Linked DNA regions of Homo sapiens: region 1 is linked to region 2. A link means that fine-mapping ties the variant in region 2 to the expression of a gene that starts in the linked region. Tissue or cell type: whole blood. Region 2 holds a variant in brackets; the other region holds the start of a gene. All regions are shown on one strand. Distances are from middle to middle.

Evidence for each region. PIP is the estimated chance that this variant, and not a neighbour inherited with it, causes the effect.
Region 1: SMIM3 starts here. The variant in region 2 is fine-mapped to the expression of SMIM3 in whole blood (TOPMed, PIP above 0.99).

Annotation. Positions count from the first base shown.
Region 1 is chr5:150,775,505-150,783,613 of GRCh38, reverse strand. It overlaps SMIM3 (small integral membrane protein 3), which reads right to left and starts at 4,857. Exons shown (of 2, transcript NM_032947.5): 1 at 4,642-4,857. It overlaps LOC124901110, which reads left to right and starts at 3,213. Exons shown (of 2, transcript XM_047417995.1): 1 at 3,213-3,707; 2 at 4,063-8,109. The coding sequence starts at 4,493. The coding sequence ends at 5,134. RefSeq lists an enhancer at 3,474-4,335 and a silencer at 4,773-4,962.
Region 2 is chr5:150,850,502-150,858,610 of GRCh38, reverse strand. It overlaps a transcript of IRGM not described here. Among named protein-coding and RNA genes, the nearest start is that of IRGM, 8.0 kb to the right of the region's middle. The variant T/G (reference allele first, on the strand shown) is at 4,285.

The sequences.
Region 1 (8,109 bases), 75 kb after region 2:
CAAGGCAGATAGAGGCAGGTGGCTTCCTGCAGGTGTGGCCTTAGCCCAGCACTGCCAGAACTCTGGGCAGACCATGCTGCTGCTGTTTTGTTTCCACCAGCCACGGTGGCCAGAGAGCAGACAGCTATAACCAGCTCCAAGTCACTGATGCTGAGGCGTCCAAAGATACATGACTCTTCAAGTATTTTGCAGAATGTGAACAAGGCTGATGGTTCCCAGGGCACAGGACTAGAGGGTTTGCCAGCATTGTCCACCTTATAGGACCCCTTCCAAAAAGTCTCCACCCTCAGAAGATGCTGCTGAGGTTGTCAAGGAAGAATGGAACATTTAAGCCAGAGAGGGCAATTCAAGTTCCTAGATGGGGCCACACTGGCCACTTTGTAGCCTGGGGAACCTAACAACTGTGTCCCAGGGGCTGATCCCACTTGAAGAACTTTGTGTTTGCTGTTCCTTCTCAGAATGCTCTTTTCCTCCCCTGTCCATTGTCTCAATGTCCATGACCTCAACCTAAATGTTACGTTTTAGTAAAGTTTTTCCCGACCCACTCTGTTAAACTATCACTCTTATCTTGTTTTATTTTCTGCATATGCTTTTCACAATCTAAAATTAGCTTGTTTGTTGCTTGTTTGTTTTTATTGGCTTTTTTCCTATCAGGCTAAAGACTTGTTCATTTGCTCCCTCAAACGCAAGCACAGGGAGAGCAGAAGCCTCACCTCTTGTGTATTGCTGTGTCCTCAGCACCTATCACAGGGCCTGGCATATCACAAGTGCCAACAAATATGAAATCAATGAAGAAATGAATATGGGAAGATTATTTCAGATGTGAGCTCACTCGTGGAACCTAATTGACTGAAGAGGTCCAGAAAGAATCCTCATCCCTGCAAAAGTCCCAGTGATTCTAAAAGTCAGAACACTATCTCCAAAATAACATGATGTCCTCTGATTTTATCATTTTCTGGGCTCTTTGTACATTCAGGAAGGATTATGGGGGGCTCTTTCTTCCCCAGCCCACCCTGTACATACCAGGCAGAAGAGAACTGGCCTTTCAGAACGAAGCCCTCTAGGATTCCCACTTGTTGATTTGCTTGGGCCGATAAGCTCAAATTCGAGTTCTGACTCCATGTGCTCAGGAGCTGGGGACTGAGGTGGGGAGGAGGGACCAGGGGTGAGGGGAGCAGTGATGTTGCCCAAGATGTGAATCTTTCTGTTCTTAGAAGAGGTCAGGGAGGCTGATAAAAGTGGGGGCAGGTTTCCCATGCCAAGTCCAATATGAGAAGGACATACCAGCTTCACATTTACTCTTGGAAGTATTTCTCCTCCCACTGTGTAACAGCCTCAAACATTTACCAACCCAGCACAGTCATTTCACCAGGGACCTTTGGTCCAAATAAAGGGGCCAGAGGAAGGAATGGACAGGACATACAACTACCAAAAATGTGAAATGAATCAAATCACAGCCTTTTCTCCAATGACCCAAAGTCCCTAAGGAGCACTCTGTTCTCATTTCACCCCAACTGGCCCCTGTCTCTCCAAACTTCCTAACAGACTACAGACCTGCCTGAGTTTCCATCTGCTCCTCTGTGGCTGGAAAAATGGAAAAACACCAAGATATTTCAAAGAGATCGGAACACAGCCAGAGCTGTGTAAGACCGCACGTACCATCTGACCCAGCCAATCACAGAGTCTTAGAAACCAACAGAGAGCTAGCAGAGGAGAAAGCCCAGGCCAAATCCCCAGCATCCTGTTTAAGGCACTACTATCCATCATTGCTATTTGCCAGTGACTAAGTGCCTGCTGTGTGTCGGGCTAACAAAGGAGACTGTCCATGAGAGGTGCTGGCAGGGTGCTCCGTGACAGAGCTGCAAGAGCACCGGGCGGTGGTAGTGCCTTGCCTCAATGTGTGAGCCTCAACAGGTCGCTCTCCCAAAGTCAGCCTCATGTGTGTGGAAAGCAGAATAATGCCCACCACCACCACCACCAAAGACATCTATGTCCTGGTCCCCAGAATCTTGAATATGATCCTATATAGTGGGTCACTAGCAAGAAACATATCCAATCAGCCAATCAGAGTGCAAATCAATAAAATAAGGAAGCTCTATCTATACACAACTAAGCAATTTAAAGTATATGGTTTAGACGTGGAATCTAGCTTGCTGTTGTTTAATGTGCCAGGCAATTATACTTCTGAGCAGTTCCCCTTCCTAACTACCTAATTCTTAGCCTTTACTGCTAGATGTCTCCATTATCTCTTGAGGTTCACCTTCTGTTTCCCTAGTGAGTTGGAAGGATACTAGGTCTCTAGGGATCCACTAGAACAGTGACTATCAAATTCTCACTTAACTTCTCTCAGGTCACCCTGAAAGTAAGTGACAGAGGCAAGATCTGAACCTAGTTCCCCCCAATTCCAATGAAGTTCAGAGAATAGGCCCTGGAGCCAGGGTGCCTGCGTTCAAATTACAGCTCTGCCACTTACTTTCTGTGTGATCATGGGTGAGTCACTCTCTCTGGACCTCAGTTTCCTCATCCATAAAATGGAGGTGATGACAGTCCCTCCCTAATAGGATTGTGGTAAAGCCTAAATGAGTTAATACAAGTAAAATGCTTAGAGTCATGCCTAGCTTATAGTAAGTACTCAGTAAATGGCAAGTATGATCATTATAACATCATTCCGCTTACTGGGCCAGTCAGGGTGGGGGAGGACAAGGCAGGGTGTCGCAATGCCAACACTTACTCCTATACCTCAATAAACTGTGTTTGTGAGTACACGTGCCCATTTTTTATACCACCGCCACACCCAACCAAGATATTCTCTTTCCTTGGAGGTATTTCCTTTGCATGTTTCAATCCATAGAGAAGAAATGGAGGCACAACGTTTAAAGGATTGGCGTATGGCTGAGAAAGCATCTGAGGCTGTGACTGGCCCTTATCCCCTTGGTCTGTCACCCCCAAGGGCCCAGGATCTGACCTGACCACAGGCCCCCAGAGTCTCTCATTTGTTTTGCATCTCTAACACCTCACCGCGACTCAGTGGTTCTCTGGCTGTTCTCTGGGACTCCCCAGATCTTTAGTGTCATGGAGCCACAGTTCTGAGGTTCGGAGAGGTCACTTGTGGGAGAGTTCATGAAGCATGACTTGTAACCCCCACAGCATGATTCACAGTCCCAGGACAGCTGGGAACAGGAGGTCCCGGCTGGAGCAGGAAAACACTTTTTAGTTTTTTTCAGTTGTCACTGCAGAAGCACATGATGTCCTAAAGCTCAGCTGTGCTGCTTTGCGTGTGTCTAGATGGCTGCTGTGCGGCCTGCATAAACCAAAGAGCATGTCATGCTCAACCACAGACAAACATCTGTTCCACTCCCATGTCTTCATTTTACAGATAGGGAAGACAAGGGCCAGAGAGGGGAAATGCCTCCATTAGGGTAATTCAGAGGGTCTCCTAACCCCCAGAGTACCTGTTCTTCCCGCTCCCACCTCCACCTAATTCAGGCATCCCCAATCCTTCCAAACTATGTGGCCACTGCAGTAGCAGCACGCATCATAGCAGATGTTCAAGGAATCTCTGATACTTGTGTGATTGCGCAGCCTTCACCACCACACCCTGGAGCTTTGAGGACCTTAGTATTCACCACAGATGAACCGGAGACTCCTCAGCCCCCAGGTGCAGCAGGATTCCAGCTGGTCCAGAAGAAACAAGTGCAGCTGCATAAGTAAGAGCCCAGCCTGGCCCTCAATCAGAATAACAGCCCCTGAGGTTTGTTTCAATTTGTGGGGGGGGCGGGGGGGGTTACACCTTTCATCCTTTCACTCAGTACATATGTATGGAGCACCTACTGTTAGCCAGGCCCTGCTCCAAGAGCTGAGAATGCCTCAGAGATGACGATAGACAGGCAGTCCCTACCCTCAAGAAACTGGCATGGGGGAGACTAGGGAGCAAAACAACCAGCAACTGGAACAACTACGTCCTCAGGAAAGGGACAGCTAACCAGCAGGAGGGAGCTTGAAGGAAGCCTTCTCTCCAAGATACTTTGCTCATGTCCTTTCTCCTTTGCTTTCTGCACGCAGAAAATGTTTTCCCAATTTCACTGATGGAAAAACAAGGATGGTGAAGCAGTTAGTGACAGAACCAGGGCTGGAACCCGCCACTCCTGACTCCAAACTCCTGGCGCCTTCTACACGGGGCCTCGAGAAAAGCGGGACAGGTAAGTGCAAAGACCCAAACCCAGCGCAGCGCCCAAGCAGGTGCTCAGGCCCGGGCGCTGAACCCTGACGCTGGGCCTGGAGAGCCAGGAGGTGGCAGTCTGCCCGAGGAGGAGGCTTCCCGAGAAGGCAAGGGCAGCGGACCCGGAGAGAAGCCAGTCTCCGAGTGGGGCTGGGGTTCGCCCACCCAAGCTCCGCCTCCCCCAGGCCCAAAATTCTGTGCACTAGGAGGCTCGAACTTAAGAGCTGACAGCAGGAGAAAAAGGAGGGGGTGAGGGCAAGAAATACAAAAGTGATGAAAAGGGAGAAATGGGGAGGAGAGACCGGACATAAAGAAGAACGTTGGGAGCCCGGGGAAAGGGGCCGCACTAGAGGTAGGTCGCGAATCCGAAGAGCTCCGCTCTGCCAGAGCCCCACAAACAATCCCCCGGTGGCCCCACTCACCCCAGATGGCGGCGAGTCTGCGGAAAGTTCCTGGGTCAGGGATGGCTCGGTGCTTCTCAGGGTCCCCAGGACTGCACGGGATCTGGCAGCTGGAAGCGACCCCCAGGCCTGGAACCTCAGCCCTAGGCAGCTCCTGGAACGTGCCCCGGCTCCTCCGAGCCCCGGGAGGCGGGAGAGCGCAGGAGCGGCCAGGACGCGCTGCTGGCTCTGGAATGCGCGGCTGCTGGGGACCGCCCCCGGAACGCCCGGTCCCGGGGCCCCGGCAACTCCAGCTCAGCTCCTCCTCCAGCGTCCCCTGCGGGCTGCGTTCGGGGAGAAAGGAACCTGCGAGAGAAGGGAGAGACCAGGGCGTCTCGGGCTCCCCTTCCACGTTGCCACACACTCGCCGCGTAGCCGTGGACATGTCGCTTGGCTTCTGAGGGTCTCCCCTCTCTGGATTGTAAACCGAGAGGGTTGGCCTAAAATGTGTCCTCCACGACCTTTCCAGCTATAGAGTAGACATGGGAAAGAAAGCCTAGCAAGTAGGTTTGGACAGAGGAGCCGGGACTCAGATCCTGCTTTGCGATGTCCGAAGTGTAGGGTCCTTCGGAGGCTTTGCCACTCTGTTTCATTCTCTGTAAAGTGGGAAAGGTAACACCTGTCTCCCAGTCCTGTTGTGAGGATTGGTTTAGAGGACCAGTGTGAAGCTGGTTGGTTCTCTGCCATAACATGACTTGGAGCATCCTGTTTATTTTGTGATAACAATGAAATAGCCCAATCCAAGGTGATCAAGAGCCCATTAGAATCCAGCATCTGAGAGGCTTCCCACGCCACTGTGGGTGGCCCAGCTTCCACGCAGGACAATGCCAATTCTGTAATCTTCTGCCCCCTCTATGTCATCCATGGAGTGAGGGGGGACTCCCGTCCCATGTTGGCACCCACACTTTTTAATTCACAGTGGTTTTCTTTAATCTTACTCTTCTGAAAAAAAGGAGCACAAGCCTTGACTATCAGTGAGACCTTGAGCAGTCTTGGAGCCCAGTAGTGTTTTGGAGGGTTTGGAAAGAGCCATACTGCCTTCCCCAGGCCTAAATTTGATATGGTGTGGGCCCCGAACTTAGAACTTACTCCATGCTGTTTCCTCTGATTCAGGGATGAGGTCAGCAGAAATGACCTCTAAATCATCATTATCACACGCCAGTTTCTTAAGGGAAGGACAGTGAGGATGAAGGGGATTCACATGAGAAATGATTTGAGAAAAACCCTAAGGGCTGTCACCCAACAACATGTTTTATTCAAAAGAGATAGTGTGGGAACCTAAAAACAAGGACAACCCAATTCTGAATAGTTTAATACAAAGCTCTCATTTAATAGTAAAAAAAGATTGAAGGAGGACAATCTTTTTTTTTTTTTTTTTTTTTTTTGAGACGGAGTCTCGCTCTGTCGCCCAGGCTGGAGTGCAGTGGCATGATCTCGGCTCACTGCAACAGGAGGACAATCTTAATATGACATTTTCCCTGGTTAGTGAAGGGGATGAGAGTTCCTTTGGGTGGACAACTGGTAACTCCATGTGCCCTGCTGTGAACATTGGCTTCCCTCTGGGACAAGGCAGAAGCTCAGGCCTGGAGCCAGCTGAGTCCTAGTCTCCCTTTCCATTTAGCAATTTATTAGTATCTCTTTAATATCGACTTGCCCTGGGACCCTAAAAGCAAGCCAGAAATAAAGTATGAATCCCCACAGGAGCATACCATGTTAAGTCTGCTGCCTAGGCTAGACTGATTTTGCAAAGAGAGCACTGAAGGGAAGAATAATGGATGCTGTGTTGGGATGCAGGAGTGGGGGAAATAGTCAATTTCAGCAACAAGCTTTTGTTACAGCAAAAGCCAGAAAACAGCTCACAACTTCCTTGGTCCTCTATTACAACCACTCCAAAGAGAAAACCATCAGGACCTGAAAGAAATAAGTAATACTCTCTTAGAGAGCCCCTGATACTTTGGGGAACTTGTACAGAAGAAGTTGTAGTCTAATGACATTGGCTGCCATCAAAAGACGGCCTTGGCCAGGGGCAGTGGCTCATGCCTGTAATCCCAGTACTTTGGGAGGCCGAGGCGGGCAGATCACCTGAGGTCAGGAGTTCGAAACCAGCCTGGCCAACATGGTGAAACCCTGTATCTACTAAAAACACAAAAATTAGCCAGGCGTGGTGGCGGGCGCCTGTAATCCCAGCTACTGGAGAGGCTGAGGCAGGAGAATCACTTGAATCCCAGAAGCGGAGGCTGCAGTGAGCCGAATTGCCCCACTGCACTCCAGCCTGGGCAATAGAGTGGGACTCTGTCTCCAAAAAACAAACAAACAAACAAACAAACAAACCACTGCCTAAAGAGGCCCCCATTAGGATGCAATCCATAGCAAATACCCTCTTTAAGAATCATATCTACACGAGACATTTTCTTTTCATTTTTCACTTGTACAAATATATTTATTTACTTTTGGGGAATAATATGACATATTGTATTAGAAATCAGAAAACCAGTATTTCGAGTCTGTCACCCAGTAGCCCACCCAAGCTCCATAAAATAGTAAAATGAGACCTATTCCTCACATCTGGTACAATTATGATGAGTAAATATTTTATTCATATACAGCAGACCCCTGAATAACATCCTTCTGTTATAACGTTGATGAGGAAAAAAAATTGTTTCCCTGCTGGGATCACCGTCTGTGTGGCATTTGCATGTCCTCCCCATGTCTTCCTGGGTTTTCTCCAGGTACCCCGGTCAGTTTCCTCCCACATCCCGAAGATATGCATGTTAGGCAAACTGCTGTGTCTATGTAGTCCCAGTGTGAACGATTGTGGGTGTGGGTGAGTCTGCTCTGCGATGTGATGGCGTCCTGTCCAGGGCTGGTTACTGCCTCGAGCCCTGAGCTGCCGGGACAGGCTCTGGCCACTGAACTCTAAACTGGAATAAGCAGGTAAATAATTCTCTTCCTTGTTTTTACTAATCTTTCTTAAATGTATGTATGGTTCACAATTATTTCAGTGTTCAATATTGGAAGTGTTTTAGTCTTTATTTAGAAGTTTGGTGGTACTTTTGTTATCAGAAATATGCTGTAGGAACTTAACTCTTCTTTCTGTCCATTTGTCTATGGTAAAATTGGTTTCCTTATACATAGTTTCACTCAAAATCAAAGTGTCCAAAACCTGTTGAGGAGGCTGAGTGAGGACTTACTGTATTCCTTCATTCAAAGCTATTTATTGAATATCTCCTACATGTTCTAGGCACTAAGGAAGACAAATTATCTTTATTTATTGTGCTTACATCTACTGGGAAAATATTCACAAAAAATAAGTAAGCAAATAAATAAGCAAGATGATACCGGTTTGCGAAACCATGAAGAACATAAAGCAAGATGATGAGAGAGTGATGGAGAGTGTTTTATCATGGAGATTGTAGTTAAACTGAATTTCCTAAATAGTTTATATCATCA
Region 2 (8,109 bases):
CACTGCTCAAGGAAATAAAAGAGGATACAAACAAATGGAAGAACATTCCATGCTTATGGGTAGGAAGAATCAATATCGTGAAAATGGCCATACTGCCCAAGGTAATTGATAGATTCAATGCCATCCCCATCAAGCTACCAATGACTTTCTTCGCAGAATTGGAAAAAACTACTTTAAAGTTCATATGGAACCAAAAAAGAGCCCACATCACCAAGTCAATCCTAAGCCAAAAGAACAAAGCTGGAGGCATCGCACTACCTGACTTCAAACTATACTACAAGGCTACAGTAACCAAAACAGCATGGTACTGGTACCAAAACAGAGATATAGACCAATGGAACAGAACAGAGCCCTCAGAAATAATGCCGCATATCTACAACTATCTGATCTTTGACAAACCTGACAAAAACAAGCAATGGGGAAAGGATTCCCTATTTAATAAATGGTGCTGGGAAAACTGGCTAGCCATATGTAGAAAGCTGAAACTGGATCCCTTCCTTACACCTTATACAAAAATTAATTCAAGATGGACTAAAGACTTAAACATTAGACCTAAAACCATAAAAACCCTAGAAGAAAACCTAGGCAATACCATTCAGGACATAGGCATGGGCAAGGACTTCATGTTTAAAACACCAAAAGCAATGGCAACAAAAGCCAAAATTGACAAATGGGATCTAATTAAACTAAAGAGCTTCTGCACAGCAAAAGAAACTACCATCAGAGTGAACAGGCAACCTACAAAATGGGAGAAAATTTTCGCAACCTACTCATCTGACAAAGGGCTAAGATCCAGAATCTACAACTCAAACAAATTTACAAGAAAAAAACAAACAACCCCATCAAAAAGTGGGTGAAGGACATGAACAGGCACTTCTCAAAAGAAGACATTTATGCAGCCAAAACACACATGAAAAAATGCTCACCATCACTGGCCATCAGAGAAATGCAAATCAAAACCACAATGAGATACCATCTCACACCAGTTAGAATGGCGATCATTAAAAAGTCAGGAAACAACAGGTGCTGGAGAGGATGTGGAGAAATAGGAACACTTTTACACTGTTGGTGGGACTGTAAACTAGTTCAACCATTGTGGAAGTCAGTGTGGCGATTCCTCAAGGATCTAGAACTAGAAATACCATTTGACCCAGCCATCCCATTACTGGGTATATACCCAAAGGAATATAAATCATGCTATAAAGACACATGCACACGTATGTTTATTGCGGCACTATTCACAATAGCAAAGACTTGGAACCAACCCAAATGTCCAACAATGATAGACTGGATTAAGAAAATGTGGCACATATACAACATGGAATACTATGCAGCCATAAAAAATGATGAGTTCATGTCCTTTGTAGGGACATGGATGAAACTGGAAACCATCATTCTCAGCAAACTATCGCAAGGACAAAAAACCAAACACCACATGTTCTCACTCATAGGTGGGAAATGAACAATGAGAACACATGGACACAGGAAGGGGAACATCACACACTGGGGACTGTTGTGGGGTTGGGGGAGGAGGGAGGGATAGCATTAGGAGATATACCTAATGCTAAATGACGAGTTAATGGGTGCAGCACACCAACATGGCACATGTATACATATGTAACAAACCTGCACATTGTGCACATGTACGCTAAACCTTAAAGTATAATAAAATAAAATAATAAATAATAAATAATAAATATTTATTTATTTAATAATATTTAATTAATAATATTAATTAATAATTAATAAATAACAATAAAATAAAATAAAAAAAGAAAATGGATGGATCCACAGCAGGTGTATGTATATGGATGAGGAAGAGGGATTAAGAAAATGCAGCAGGCCCCATGCAGTGGCTCACACCTGTAATCCTAGCACTTTGGGAGGCCGAGGCAGGTGGATTGCTTGAGCCCAAGAGTTTGAGACCAGTCTGGGAAACATAGCAATACCCTGTCTCTGAAAAATAAAAAAACTGCAGCAGTATTTTAAAGGTTGGTGCATGGAAGTCATGGAAGGAACACTACCCCAATTGGTAGATATTGAAAAAAATATTACCAACATCACAGTTAACATAGAGGATACACAAATATAAATAGAATGTTTAAAAATCACCCTTAGAGAGAGTAGAATTTTGATACATTTTATTTTATTTTATAATTTTTATTTATTTATTTATTTTTGAGACAACGTCTCGCTCTGTTGCCCAGGCTGGAGTGCAGTGGTGCGATCTCAGCTCACTGCAGCCTCTGCCTCCCAGGTTCAAGCAATCCTCCTGCCTCAGCCTCCTGAATAGCTGGGACCACAGGTGCACACCACCATGCCTGGCTAATTTTTGTACTTTTAGTAGAGACAGAGTTTCACCATGTTGGCTAGGATTGTCTTGATCTTCTGACCTCATGATCCACCTGCCTTGGCCTCTCAAAGTGCTGGGATTACAGGTATGAGCCGCCACCCCCAGCCTTGATACATTTTATTTTTTAAATCACATATTTAACTTATAAAATTTGGACATATATATACATACTTTTAAAATACTATTTTCTGAAATATTCCCCCATGATAGTCAATGCTGTTAGAGATTTATAATTTATTGTTATAATTTTAAAATCTCTTGAGTTTTGAAGTTAAAACATGTTTTAACTTTTAAAAATTGAGTGTCTCCTAATTAACATCTGGAGAAACTGTTCTTTAAGAGAATGCTTCAGAAAGTCTAAATTAATTGATATCAAATTTTCCCCTTTTACAAAACATATTGTTTCTGTGTTTTTGCCTTCTTCCTAATAGTCTTATTTCACATTTGGCTAGTTTATTTTTCTTTTGCTGCAGTGAACATACTAGTGGTTTATATTTCACTGTTTCTCATTTTATCTGCTCCACTCTGGTAACCAGGTTACTCAGGTCAATAAAACCTGAAGAAAGAGCCCCTATGTCATTCCTAAGTGAACTCAAACTACAGGTGGTGAAAAGATGAAGGTGCCTTAAAGAATCTACCATGTTGGAAAATCAGACCTAGTACGCTGACCTCAAGGCTACCTTACCATTCCTCCTTGTCACTTTTTTGATAAGTTTACATTCTTCCTAATCTGATCACTTCCCATATGCCTACTAAATATCTAAGTCAGCAAGAGAAACCGTTTCAGTCACTTCTCTGGTGGCCAACAGAAAAATTAATCATTTCATTGATTTTAATAAAATTCAACTACTTACTAAGTCATCACAAAATTATAATGAATAAAACAAACTCTTCCTTAAGGATAAAGAAAAAAATGAGAAAATTTCACTGTGCTTCCATTTATTTTTAAGCTGCCAATTATTACATTTATTTTTAATTAGAAAATAAATCTAAGTTTGAGAAAAATTACTCTGCATGTTGAATTTCATTTACCTCATCAACAAAGATATACTAGGAGCTACACCAAGTAGGAGAATTTTGAAAAGTGTAACTCAAAGCAATGCTGGCTAGCAGCCAGGCTATGAGTCTTGGTCCTACTTGTGTTCATAGTACTGAGGGATATCAGCAAAATGGTAAGCTAAGAACCTCCAAACCTTTGTTCATTCATAGAAAAAAATACTATGGATGGTTTAAATAACTTTATAGAAACTCTGAAAAACAGTCAGAAAAAAAGAGCAACCAAGTAAATTCCCATTAAGAAAAAGTCATATTCAAAATTATTGTGTTTTTACTCATTTAAAACATTATGGGACTTTGAGAAAGAGAAGAAAGGGGCAGATAATTTTTTTGAAAAAGTAATAGCCAAAAGCTTCCCAAGTTTGAGGAAAGACATACAAAGAAGCTGTATGAACCACAAGATAAAGCCAAAAAGACCCATAGTGGACAAATTGTAATCAAACTGTTAAAAGACTAATAGAATCTTAAAAGCAGCAAGCGAAAACAGACTCATCATATACAAGCTATTCTCAATAAGATTTTCAGTAAGTTTCTCAGCAGAAAGGTTGCAGGCCAGAAGGCACAGAGATGATATATTTAAGGTGCTAAAAGAAAAAGAAAAATACTTGTCAACTGAGAATTCTGTATTTAGCAAAACTGTCCTGTTAAAATTAGGCAAAAATAAATGCACCCCCAGGTAAACAAGCTAAGAGGCTACATTACTACTAGTCCTCCACTATAATCAGTGTTAAGACAGCCCTTCAAAGTTGAAATAAAATGACAATAGACAGTAACTTGAACACATAGGAAAATATAAAGATCTCCGGTAAAGGCAAATACATGGACATTATAAAAACTAATAGTTTTATATAATTTTGGCTTGTAACTACACTTTA[T/G]TTTTTAAAGAATTTAAAAGGCAAATTCACAAAAATAATTATAAATCCATGTTAATAGGTACACAACATATATAAAGATTGATTTTTGACAGAAATAACATAACAAAGCAGGAAGGGAAAGTTGTAAAAAAGCAAAGTGTTGGGTGCAATTGAAGTCAAGTTGGTATTAATTCAAAATAGATTGTTATAACTTTGTACTGTCACATGTAACCTCCATGGTAACCACAAAGAAAATATCCACAAAATGTACACAAAAGGAAATAAAAAGGTAATCAAAATGTGTCACTATAAAAAATGAACTAAAAACAAAGGAAAGTAGTAATTGAGGAAATGAGAGAAAAAAAGCTATAAGACAAAGAGAAAACATCAAAATGGCAGAAGTTCCACTTTATCAGTAATTGCTTTAAATGTAAATGGATGTTTCTGTCCAATCAAAAAGCAGATATTGGTAGAATGGGGTTGGGGAGATGTGATACAATTATATGTTGTTTTTATAGATACTTTACGGATTCACTATAGATCTCAGGATACCATAGTTTGAAAGTGAAAGTGGAAGGGTGGAAAGAGATATTCCATGCAAACAGGAACTGAAAGAGAGCAGGGGTGGCTATACTAATATCAGACAAAATAGACTCTAGGTTAAATTTAAATTAAAAACTGTTACAAGAGACAAAGCAAGATACTACATGTAAGTAAAAGAATCAGTTCTAAGATATAATAATTATAAACATATGTACCAAACATCGTATCTCCAAAATATATTAACCAAGCATTGATAAAATTGGAGAGAACAAATAGACAGGTCTACAGTAATAGTAGGAAATATCAATACCCCTCTCTCAATGCTGGATAGAACCACCAGTCTTGAACAATTCTGCAGACCAATTGGACACATGCAGAACACTTCACCCAACAAGATTCCATTAGAATATATGGTTTTTTTCTTAAGTGAATATGTAACATTCTTCAGGAGAGACCATACATTAGGCCACAAAACAAGTGTTAATAAATTTTAAAAGATTGAAATTATGCAGTGTCTTTCCCAATTACTATGCAATAAAACTGAAAATATCAGAAGAAAAACTGGAAAATTCACAAATATGTGGACATTAAACAACACACTTTTAAACAACCAATGGGTTAAATAAGAAAAATTAGAAAAAACCTTAGGACAAATGAAAACACAATTTGCAAAAACTAATGGGACGCTGTAAAAGCAGTATGAAGAGGGAAAATTATAGCTTTAAATACTTACATTTTAAAAGGATAAAAGATTTCAGTTCAACAATACAACTTTATGTTTTAAGGCACTAGAAGAATAATGATCTAAACCCAAAGATAGCAGAAAAAATAAAATAACAAAAGATATGAGCAAAGATTACCATAATTCATTTGAGAATGTTGCCTAAAAATACAGTAAAGAAACTCAATATTATTTTCTCTTCTATTAGAAATTCAACAATATGCACTCTTAAAACACTTCTCCAGGAAATGAGATATTATTATAGACAAACTAACCCGAAATAGAAATAGTTGTTTGATTCTTCTGCTTGTTCCTAGAGTTGAGAATGAAAAAGGGTACATTCTTGTTGAGATTAGTTTCCAGAACTGAAGCCTCAATGGAGAATTGGCCTTTTCCATTCTCTGCAGAATATGGCTTTAAATTATGTCCTTAGAGTTCTCTCTAGCTTATCCCATGCTCTGGGTACCAGCTTTCATCCTTATACCACACTGCATCACTGGCATCACTGCTCTTAATGAGAATGTGTGAACAATTTCCTAATTTCATGAAATAAGAAGTGGACAAACAGCTCAATTAAGAGATGATTATCTAAAATGGGCTTTGATTATAGTTTTAGTATTTTGAATAAGGTGAGCCAGATGGAAATAATGTCCATCCCCTGTGCAACTTAGGTAGAAAAAATAATTCCGTTAATAGTTTAATCAGAACAAATGATTGCTCTAAGGAATCAAATGTAGCAGGAAAAGATAAGAATAAGAAATCTTTAAGAACTAAGGTTTTTAAAACATAAGAATATAAGATAATAATGAGAAGCTGAGTCTAAGAATTTATAGTAATGTCAGAAGTACACCAAAAGCTGATTGAATGGCACAGTTCTGATTTAGTCATTACGCTACCACGGAGGTCAAACTGTCAAAGCAGATTTATGAAAATTATACAGCTTACTTAATACCAAATTTTACTAATTGATGAAGAACATGAGCAAAAAGCAAGCAGAGAAACAGCAATATCCATCTTTGAAAAGGCCCAAAAGATCAGATGTACTTCCAAAAACATATATTTTTGCACTGGAATGTACTTTGTGCCTGAGTAGGAGATTAATGTTACTGTATGTATCATGTACATGCCATACATGTTAGCCCTAGGAGGCCATTTAAGTTTAGAGCTTTTTACATTCCATTAGTTGCACAGGTAGGAAACCTACATGACTAACTTTAGCTCTCCAAGTTGTGCCCTGTACTTCACAAATTCCAGATTCATCTACAATAAGCAATGCAAAAAGCCTACTAAAAACATTGTTAGATGAGAACTTCTTGGGTAATCTTCCTGCTTGTAAATACCATCAGTGGTTACAAGGAGGGAAGAGTAATGAAGCTGTTGCTAGTTCTTTCCCTTTTGTGAAGACACGGATGAAGTGCAGTGCTGGGAGTGGCAAGGGATTGAATCAAGCAAGATTCAGAAATATACAAATGATTCAATGGCCCTTTATATTCAAATCTCCAAATTTGAGTTTTATATATCATCTTCTCAAAGGAACAAAACAAAAAATTCAATCATATACAAAAATTTTGTCTATTATAAAGTTGAATGTTTGCCCCACACCTGGCCTGCCGTCGTGCATTAGGGGACCATGGATGATCAAAAGAATCCCTGTCCTGATGAGGTCCCCCTGATGCTCTTATTTATGCTAAATTGCGAACATTTGATGCACTTGGGTCTATGATTCTTTACCAGCCATACCAATCATGTCTACGACAGATAAGGGGGAGGAAGATGGAGTGCATGCAACACCCTACAGCATTCTCTGCCATTATCTGACTCTTCACCTGCTCCATCTTCCCTTCAAGACCAACGGTAGGAGGGTGCTGCTTATGGTAATCAGATCACCAGGTTGCTGTTCCAGGGCCATATGTAGGGAGTACAACCAAAAGCACAGGCTTCCCTTTATCTCTTTGTTCCTGCCCAACTATCATGTCAATTCTTGCCCTGAAATTTGATCTATCCTTCTTTTCCAGTCCAAGTAAGATGGTTTTTCTTACCTGCATGGCTTCACTGAAACCAAAACTAACATTTCCAAACACATTTCAGTTAAAAGTAGAGATGAATTTTGTTTTTCAAATTTGAAAATGCTCATTAAAATAGAAAGCTAATGTGTGCCAGCTGAGTAATACTCAGATATCTCTGTACAAGAATCCTTCATCCGTCTTTGCCTCGCAGTCCTCCTGGGCCTGGGAGCTGACATCAGGCACAGCCAGGCAGGGAAAACTCATGGCTCGCTCTCACTACAGGGGGTGGAAACCAGAATAATCAAGACCAGTCTGGCAACATAGTGAGACCTTGTCTCTACAAAAAAATTTAAAAATCAGCCAGGCATAATAAGTATGTGCTTGTGGTCCTAGCTACTCAGGAGGCTGAGGCAGGAAGATACCATGAGTTCGAGGCTCAAGTAAGCTAATAATGGCACCACTGCACTCCAGCCTAGGCAAGATAGCAAGACCCTGTCTCAAAAAAGGGGGGTACATAATAATATGTCTTCCCACTCCATATTTATTCACCCCTTACCCCTTAGAAATGACCATAAT